2 linked regions of the Homo sapiens genome follow. The protein of the gene in region 1 interacts with the protein of each later gene in a pairwise test. Each region holds a gene or a part of one and is shown in the gene's direction. Other genes may lie near its edges.

The links. The genes of interacting proteins can lie anywhere in the genome.
Region 2: the proteins of SKIL (region 1) and COL4A2 interact in a two-hybrid assay, tested with the Homo sapiens proteins (one large-scale study listed by BioGRID and IntAct).

Annotation. Positions count from the first base shown.
Region 1 is NC_000003.12:170,377,572-170,382,762, forward strand, and holds part of SKIL (ski-like protein), read left to right. Parts: intron 1-3,672; coding exon 3,673-3,770; intron 3,771-5,191. UniProt on the Homo sapiens protein: May have regulatory role in cell division or differentiation in response to extracellular signals.
Region 2 is NC_000013.11:110,488,378-110,493,219, forward strand, and holds part of COL4A2 (collagen alpha-2(IV) chain preproprotein), read left to right. Parts: intron 1-1,067; coding exon 1,068-1,131; intron 1,132-1,333; coding exon 1,334-1,408; intron 1,409-2,855; coding exon 2,856-2,963; intron 2,964-3,692; coding exon 3,693-3,800; intron 3,801-4,833; coding exon 4,834-4,842. UniProt on the Homo sapiens protein: Type IV collagen is the major structural component of glomerular basement membranes (GBM), forming a 'chicken-wire' meshwork together with laminins, proteoglycans and entactin/nidogen.

The DNA of each region.
Region 1 (5,191 bases):
AGAGTCTCACTCTGTCACCCAGGCTGGAGTGCAGTGGCACGATCTCGGCTCACTGCAACCTCCGCCCTCTGAGTTCAAGCGATTCTCCTGCCTCAGCCTCCTGAGTAGCTGGGATTACAGGCGCCTGCTGCCGCACCCGACTAATTTTTTTTTTTTGTATTTTTAGTAGAGACGGGGTTTCACCATCTTGGCCAGGCTGGTCTTGAACTCCTGATCTCGTGATCCACCCGCCTTGGCCTCCCAAAGTGCTGGGATTACAGGTGTGAGCCACTGTGCCTGGCCTAATTCTTAACAAAAATAAAGATCTCCCACATACATATTTTTTTCTTTTTTTATTTTTGAGACAGAGTCTTGCTCTGTCACCCAGGCTGGAGTGCAATGGCGCCGTCTCGGCTCACTGCAATCTCCACCTCCCAGGTTCAAGCGATTCTCCTGCCTCAGCCTCCTGAGTAGCTAGGATTACAGGTGCGTACCACCACACCTGGCTAATTTTTGTATTTTTAGTAAGACAGGGTTTCACTATATTGGCCAGGCTGGCCTTGAACTCCTGACCTCGTGATTTGCCTGCCTTGGCCTCCCAAAGTGCTGGGATTACAGGCGTGAGCCACTGTGCCCTGCCTATTTTTGTCCTTTAGTTGGCCCTAAGTCATCTCCTGACTGATCAGATTTTAAGATACATATTCTAAGAGCGGTTTCCTTTCTGTTTTCAGCCTGTTTTGTTGAGGGCAGTGGGTTACTTGTCAGATCTCTCCCAGGTTTCTTCATTCTCATTGATTTCCTCCATTAGTAGGATCTCAGTAATCAAACCAGAGTTTGGATAGTTTAGAGTTGATTTTGTTTTAATCACTACTGCTTAACATCCAGAGATCTGTTTGCAGTCCTTAGTTTCTTGGTTCCAAACTGGAATATTGGGACATCAGGCAAAACAGCTTTGCTACTTTCCTAATTTGTTGAATTGGGAATTGGACTCTCTCTCTCTCTCTTTTTTTTTTTTTTTGGAGACAAAGTCTTGCTCTGTCACCCAGGTTGGAGTGCAGTGGCGCGAACTCAGCTCACTGCAACCTCTGCCTCCCGGATTCAAGTGATTCTCCTGCCTCGGCCACCCAAGTAGGTGGGATTACAGGCACTCACCACCATGTCCAGCTAATTTTTGTAGAAACGGCGTTTCTCCATGTTGGCCAGGCTGGTCTCAAACTCCTGACTTCAGGTGATCCACCTCCCTCAGCCTCCCAAAGTTACAGGCATGAGCTGCTGCACCCGACCAGAATTGGAGCTTCTTTTATTTATTTATTTATTTATTTATTTATTTATTTTTTTTATCTTGAGATGGATTCTGGCTCAGTTGCCCAGGCTGGAGTGCGGTGGTGCAATCTCGGCTTACTGCAGCCTCCGCCTCCTGGGTTCAAGTGAGTCTCCTGCCTCAGCCTCCCGAGTAGCTGGGATTACAAGTGCGTACCACCATGCCCAGCTAATTTTTGTATTTTTAGTAGAGACTGGGTTTCGCTGTGTTGGCCAGGCTGGTCTTGCTCCTGACCTCAGGTGATCCACCCTTCTCGTACCACCACGCCCAGCTAATTTTTGTATTTTTAGTAGAGACTGGGTTTCGCTATGTTGGCCAGGCTGGTCTTGCTCCTGACCTCAGGTGATCCACCCTTCTCGGCCTCCCAAAATGCTAGGATTACAGGCATGAGCCACTGCGCCTGGCCATGGAACCTCTTAAAGGTAGGGTTTAGAGAAATATCCAGCTCTCTTTTTTGTTTTTTCCCTTGTTTAACTCGTTCCTAATCGCATTCTCCCTCAGTTTCCTGGGTTTGTCTGTTAACTTCCTATTTTTGTTGGTCACCTTAACCATGCCACATTTCAGCTCTCCTTTCCTTCTTTCCCCTTTCCCTTACCAGTGAGTCTTGCCCCCCCTTTTAAGTATCCTTTTCCCACAAAAGCAAGGTAATTTCGTATAATAGGAAATATGTAGGGGATGAAGGGAGGACAAAGTGTAAATAAAGTAAACCAAAATAAGGGAGAAGTTAGTAACCACAGATCATTTATTCTTTTTTTCTCTTCAATTTCTTTTTTTGTTTTGTTTTGTTTTTTGAGACGATTCTTGCTCTGTTGCCCAGGCTGGAGTGCAGTGGCATGATCTTGGCTCACTGCACCCTCCATCTCCTGGGTTCAAGTGATTCTCCTGTCTCAGCCTCCCGAGTAGCTGGGATTACAGGAGCGCACCACCATGCCTCGTTAAGTTTTGCGTTTTTAATAGAGATGGGGTTTTGCCACGTTGGCCATGCTGGTCTCGAACTCCTGACCTCAGGTGATCCACCCACCTCGGCCTCCCACAGTGCTGGAATTACAGGTGTGAGCCACTGAACCGAGCCCCTCTTCAATTTCTGAACGTCAGTTGTTTTCTCATCTGTAAAATGGTAATGATACCTATTTAATGGGGGATATTTGTTAGAATTAAGAATGATGTATAAAGTTCTCAGCCCGTAGATGTTCATTAAGTTACCAGTTACCTTTCTCCTTATTTTTCTTTATTTTTAGTTATAGCTCATCTTTAAGTATTAAAAAATCCTTTTTATATTTATTAGGAAATATAGTTTAATGACAAGTGTTAGCAAACTATGTGGTTTTGGATTTAATTTGGCAAAGTATTGCTGTAGAATGGTATCTAGCTAATATGCTAACAAATACTGTAGGGATAGGGTATAGTCTAGCCGATTGTAGTACAGGAATAAGAATCAATTTTCCAGTGCTATACCTTTATAGAGTTCTATTATTTAAAATGGATTTCTGGCCAGGCTCAGTGGCTCATGCCTGTAATCCCTGCACTTTGGGAGGCTGAGGAGCAGGGATCACCTGAGGTCAGGAGTTTGAGATCAGCCTGGCCAACATGGCAAAACCCAATCTCTACTAAGAATACAAAAAATTAGCTGGGTGTGGTGGTGGGTGCCTGTAATCCCAGCTACTCAGGATACTGAAGCAGAGAATCGCTTGAACCCGGGAGGTGGAGGTTGCAGTGAGCCAAGATCGCGCCACTGCACTCCAGCCTGGGTGACAGAGCGAGACTCCATCTCAAAAAAAAAAAAAAAATAAATAAATAAAATAGATTTCGTAAGTATGAAATTTGATGCAGTCATTTCTGGTACTCCATGTTAGCATGCATACTGAAACTGTTCTTGTGATGGGATAGTTCATGTGGGTGTCTCTGAGTTTCAGGTGATAATCAGGCTTCTTCAAGGGAAGACTGCCTTATTGGAAGATGACTCTTGAGACAGGGTCTCACTCTTGCCCAGGATAGAGTGCAGTGGTGCAATCATGGTTCAATCATGGTTCACTGCAAGCCTCAACTTCCTGGGCTCAAGGGATTCTCCCACCTCAGTCTCCCAAGTAGCTGGGACCACAGATGTACACCACTGCAACTGGCTAATTTTTTTTTTTTTTTTTTTAAAGAGACTGGGTCTTCCTATGTTGCCCAGGCTGACTCCACGGCTTAAGGAATCTTCCCCACTCTGCCTCCCAAAGTGCTGGGAATACAGGTGTGAACCACTGTGCGTGGCATGATGACTCTTAAATAATGTTAGTTGTCTTTACCCAGTGGCCCAGTCAGGTTGACACATAAAATTAACCTTCACAGTTTTACTTCAATAAATGTTTCCCTTCCATGTTTTTCTGCAGACAGATGCACCATCAGGAATGGAATTACAGTCATGGTATCCTGTTATAAAGCAGGAAGGTGACCATGTTTCTCAGACACATTCATTTTTACACCCCAGGTGAGTTGGTATTTATTTGTTCGTTTGTTCATTCATTTCTTCATTCAACAACTATATGCCATGCACTATTCTAGGACATGGGAATTTAATTATTTATTTATTTTTTTTGGTGGCAGAGTCTTGCTCTGTTACCCAGGCTGGAGTGCAGTGGCGCGATCTCGTCTCATTGCAACCTCCGCCTCACGGGTTCAAGCGATTCTCCTGCCTCAGCCTCCCGAGTAGCGGGGACTACAGGCTCACACCACCACGCCCTCCTAATTTTTTTAGTTTTAGTATAGATGGGGTTTCACAGTGTTGGCCAGGCTGGTCTCGAACTCCTGACCTCAAGTGATCTGCCTGCCTCAGCCTCCCAAAGTGCTGGGATTACAGGTGTGAGCCACTGTGCCTGACCACGAATTTATTTCTTTATTTTCAGGCTTTCTTGTTAATCATAGATTATCTTTGAAAATTCAAAATTAGGCTGGGCGCGGTGGCTCATGCCTGTAATCCCAGCACTTTGGGAGGCCGAGGTGGGTGGATCATGAGGTCAGGAGATCGAGACCATCCTGGCTAACACAGTGAAACCCTGTCTCTACTAAAAATGCAAAAAAATTAGCCGGGCCTGGTGGCGGGCACCTGTAGTCCCAGCTACTCGGGAGGCTGAGGCAGGAGAATTGCTTGAACCTGGGAGGCAGAGCTTGCAGTGAGCCGAGATCGCGTCATTGCACTCCAGCCTAGGCGACAGAGCAAAACTGTCTCAAAAAAAAAGAAAAAAAGAAAATTCAAAATTATTTTTAAATAAGTACATTGGTATTTAATGTATTTTTTGTTTCTATTTATCATTATAGGGAAATGGTAGGTGAATTGTATTGTTACTCTTATTAGAAAAAATTTCAAAGAAAGAATCTGAAATGAAATGAATTGTAAATTGCACTGAATATTTGAAATAACCTTTACTATGTGTTTCTATGTGTTTTCTAGAAATAGGTCATTTTCTTTTTGCCCTCAAGTAAAAAATGGAAGTTCTCCTTTAATTTCTTACTTTTCTTCAAGAGGTAAACAAACTCTTCAAGAATTTGGTGTGCAACTTTGATTTTTTTTTTTTTTTTTTTGAGACAAAGTCTCACTGTGTTACCCAGACTGGAGTGCAGTGGCAGGATCTTGGCTCACTGCAACCTCTGCCTCCCAGGTTCAAGCAGTTCTCTTGTCATGGCATCCTGTAGCTGAGCCTGAGCGCCAGCTGTCACTCCTGGCTAATTTTTTTGTATTTTTAGTAGAGATGGGGTTTCACCATGTTGGCCAGGCTGGTTTTGAACCTCAGGTGATCTGCCAGCCTTGGCCTCCCAAAGTGCTGCTAGGATTACAGGTGTGAGCCACCGCCCCGAGCCGCAACTTCAATTTTTTTTTTTTTTTTTTGAGATGGAGTCTCGCTCTGTTGCCCA
Region 2 (4,842 bases), on another chromosome or scaffold:
CTGTAGTACTAAAGTCCCAGTGGCACCCAGGTAGACCAGAACTCTCATGCTCCCTCTGGGGAGGAAGCCACTCTGGAGGGGAAAACTAGGGCTTCCAGGAAGCCACCGAGCAACTCAGGCATCTTCTCAATTTCCTTACCAGCCACCTGTGTCTTTCTGGAGAAGTCTCCCTCTGTGCACAGATGGAGGCGCACAGCCCCATATCTGTGTTATAATCTGCAGAGAGCAAGCTCTGCAGTCTGGCTGCCCAAACTGAAATCCCGGTTCTGCCACTTGCTGGCTGAGTGACCTTAAGCAAAACCTTTCTGTGCTTCAGTTCCTTTGCCTGTCATTGGGAAGTAACGGTGCCTGCCTGGCAGGGTTTTCATGAGGCGTGAATACGCTCTTGAGACGGGGTCCACCATGTGCACGCGGGAAAGCATGGTGGAGCGAGGATGTAGTCAGAGTCACCGCCGCCGCTGACATCACCACACTGTCGTGATGGAGACCTGGGCCACTGATGCTCTTCATTATGATGCAGTTGCCAAGCTTGTTTCATTGTATCACTTCACAGTTCCATAAGAACAGCAAGGCCAGGTGCAGTGGCTCACGCCTGTAATCCCAGCACTTTGGGAAGCAGAGGAGAGAGAATCACTTGAACCCAGGAGTTCAAGACCAGCCTGGGCAACAGAGCAAGAGCCCATCTCTACTAAAAATTTAAAAACTATTAGCAGCCAGGCTTAGTGGCTCACACCTGTAATCCCAGCTGCACAGGAGGCTGAGACGGAAGGATGACTTGAGCCCAGGAAATCAAGGCAACATTGAGCTATGATTGTGCTTCTGCACTCCAGCCAGGGTGACAGACTGCGATCCTGTCTCAAAGAAATAAATAAATAAATAAACAAAAAGAACAGCTAAGCAAACCGCCTATGATACACACTAAAAAACACGAGTTTTCCACAAAATGACAAGATCACAAACCTTGAGTATTGTCGTTAGCATACTGGATAGTTAAATAAGTGAGCTAACTTCAGAGTTACAACTGACTTCGCTAACAGCCTTCTAAGATGGTTCATGTCTGTCTTTAGGGTGACAAAGGTGCCCCAGGGAGAGCAGGCCTGTATGGCGAGATTGGCGCGACTGGTGATTTCGGTGAGTGTTGCCCGTCCAGTGAAAACAGGGAGTCCACAATTCAGAGCTCTCTGAGCATGTGAGCCAATTTCAGACCTGCAAGTGCTGTTAGGTATTTTAAAACAAATTATTCTTGTTAGGAATATAACAAAATAGAAGTTGCAAAACTCACAAAGTCCCAGTGGAAAGTCCTGTTCTTAGCCGTCTTTTTTGCATGTAACAGGTGACATCGGGGACACTATAAATTTACCAGGAAGACCAGGCCTGAAGGGGGAGCGGGGCACCACTGGAATACCAGGTACGCAAGTTATTTTCCTTGTCTTCATCTTCAACAACAGCCCTGAGCCTTTGTCTAGGAGCCCGACTTGCCAAACAGATCAAATTCAGTAACAACCAGAAAGCACTTGATAGTGAATGAGGTCTTCAAGTCCAATGTGCAAGAAAGACCGTCGTTTTTAATTAAGTTAAATCTGAAGATAAAATCAGGAAGTCTTTCTCTCTCTCTGTCTCTCTCTTTGATACTGAAAAAAGCCAGAATGGACCCTCGGTGGATGAGAATCACTGCAGTCCATAAAGTGTAACTGATGAAAAGCCAGCTAGCACCCTGACTCCCGGAACACCTGAGGGCGTGCAGCAGGTGGTCGCTGACCCGAGCTTCTCAGAAACAGCGAAGGGTCCAGGAAAGGGGGAGTGGGAGTCAGGCCATCGCTTGAGAGAGATATGGAGGCAGCTGACCAGCCCGAGCGAGTTGTGGGGGCCTGGGGCGGCACAGTGCCTCCCTTCCCTTCTGCACATCACTGAGGTTCCACTCCTAAATTCCTGCCTGCAGTGACGTCTCAAGGGGACTGTGATAGTTTTCTTCTTTCTGGGGATTTTCTTTTGGGGGGACCCCACACTGCTCAAGTTGCTGGAGCCCCAGGGGCTTGCAGGGCTGGCCCTGGTGGGAGGGAAGGAGTCTGTCCAGGGTTGGCCAGTGGGGAGACTGCTGGGCCAGTTCTTTATCTAGAAATTGCTCTGGAATGGAAAGACGTGTTCAGTTGAGCACAGGATCAGAGAACCGCCGCTGGGAAATAGGCGCCTCTGTTTACCAGCCCTCCCGGGCTCCTTTGTTATCTGTGACCTGGGCTCCCGGTGGCTTCCTCCTGAGTGACGGGAGCTCTGTACTGCTGAGCCATCCGGCGCTGGGCTGGCTGTGTCTGCCACCCTAGGCCATTAGTCCGGCCATTTGGTTTATAAACACAGAAACGTGGACCATCATTACCACGCGTCTCTAATGATGCCTTCACTTGTTCAACTGAAAATGTGTCAGGGAAGAGACGCTACCCCCACCCAAGAATTATTTTTGCTGTTACCTTTGAACATTTTGGTTTTTGTTAAACTCTGGGCCCAGAAAGGCTTTGGAGTGGAGCCTCCCCTGCATCCATCACCAGAAGACGGTATTTCGGAGCTGTGGTCCCACAATGGAAGGGTGGGGCCAGCTGTACCCATCATCCCTGGGGGTGTCCTGTTTTCCCTAAGACAGTGAGGGGTGCATGGGTACATGGGTGCTGCCTTGGAAGCTGGCTAGTGCAGGCTCAGAGGGAGGAAGTAGGTTAAAAATCAGCTAAGGAAGGAGCACGGTTGGATGCCTCTCTCCATTCCTGAAGGAGCAGCAGTGTGGTTCTGCACATCCTAGAGCCGGGGTTCCAGGGAACCCACAGGGGCGCGGTGTCTGTTTGTTCCAAGCAGCATGTCTGTGGTTGCAGGTCTGAAGGGATTCTTTGGAGAGAAGGGAACAGAAGGTGACATCGGCTTCCCTGGGATAACAGGCGTGACTGGAGTCCAAGGCCCTCCTGGACTTAAAGGACAAACAGGTAAAATCTCCCGCAGCCACACAGCCTTCCTCAGGCAGGCCCTCCGGAGACCCCAGAACAAAGGCGGTCAACATTGTCAATTTCCTCCAATCACACCCAACCCTGGAAGCTCACTCGTGCCTGCTGCCAGCTTAGGAGCTTTCCTCAGTGCTGATGGCATGGAGAGAAACAACCACCTGGGCTGGGGGGAGACCTGAGAATTGGAGAGAAGCATGGGGGTGAATGAGAAGTGCCTCTTCGGTTGAGCCTCTGTCTCTCATATAGAAGCCGACGGTTTGTAAGGGATCCCTTTGCTTGCATTGAATATGCAGAAACCCCTATGAACATCCTAGGTTAGAGAAGGAGAGCGGACAGTGGGCTGGCTTCCCACGCTGTTGCTGCTGCTGCTTTCTGTGTTTACTCAGCACCGGGGAATGCCAAGAGGCTCATCTCTCCAGGCACTGCCTCAGGGTCCTCTCCAGACGTCTATTTGGATAATAGGGCGACAATTAAAACTACACGCTATTTTCTCTCTGGCAAGGCTGAGCAAATCCTATTGAATTTGTATGTGGGGTCTAAGACCACCTGCATCCCCAGCTTGAGGGACAGTTCTAATCTCTCCTCCAACTGGCACTGCGGCCCTTCCGGCCCTCGGCCCCTCCCAGAGCGGCTGCCCCTCCTGCCAGGACCTCACCACACAGCGCCCAAGGTGTCCTGTGTGCTCAGACTTAATGCTGTGTTCACCCCCAGGCTTTCCAGGGCTGACTGGGCCTCCAGGGTCGCAGGGAGAGCTGGGGCGGATTGGACTGCCTGGTGGCAAAGGAGATGATGGCTGGCCGGGAGCTCCGGGCTTACCAGGTAAGGTCACGTAAAACACGTGGTCACCCAGACCCAGAGTCGTGGGCTGTGCAGGAGGCACCGCTGAGCAGGCCAGCCTCTCTCAGGGCGACTTCTAAGGCCCATACGAGAGCAAAGGCAGGTCTGCTGTGGCTTACGGTGGTCTGCACCAACATAGCAGCACAGGGTATACTGGCGCCCCAGGCAACTGGGAATCAAGCCAGATGCACAAATCTGCCCAGGGCTTCACCTCCCAGAAGGATGAATGAAAGCCTCCCAGAGAGGCTTCAGGGTCCACTTGTCATCGCCACACAGGGACGCACAGCAAGATCAGGGTGCAGGAGCAGCCTCAGTGTACCACTGTGCTGCACGGGCCACCCCCGGGGCCTCCTTACAGCCCCGAGACGGGCCACCCTGCCATGCTCACTGCCCATGTAACAGAAGGAATTGCCACCTGTTTGCTGTGTCCTGCTTTAGAAATATTTACCCTCAGAAATCCAGAGGGAATGGAAATGACACCGGGCTATTTGTTCCAAGCAGCTTTTACAAACCAAACATACAGCAGTGGCGAGGCGTCAAGAAGAGGCATGGGACATGTCACTCCCCAGGCCCCTTCTGGCCTAGTGAGTCTGTTAAAAAGATTCTATGAAGACAGTGTTCCAGTTCAATGGTGTTCCTAGGTAACATAAGAGTGCTTAGTTTACATGTCGTGTAAGTTGAGCGTGTGGCTTAGCTGCTTCCTATTTGTGGGGCTTTAGCAGGATTGTATGGGTGACAGTATCAGGTGACAGTTTCAGAGCCAACAAAACACATCTGAGTTATCTTGAGGGTTTCTCCCACCCAGAACCCCCTGTGCTGTCCCACACATGAAATAACAATGAGTGACACCCCCACAGGTGAAATAACGATGAGTGACACCCCCATGGGTGAAATAACGATGAGTGACACCCCCATGGGTGAAATAACGATGAGTGACACCCCCGCAGGTGAAATAAATAACGATGAGTGACACCCCCGCAGGTGAAATAAATAACGATGAGTGACACCCCCGCAGGTTTTCCGG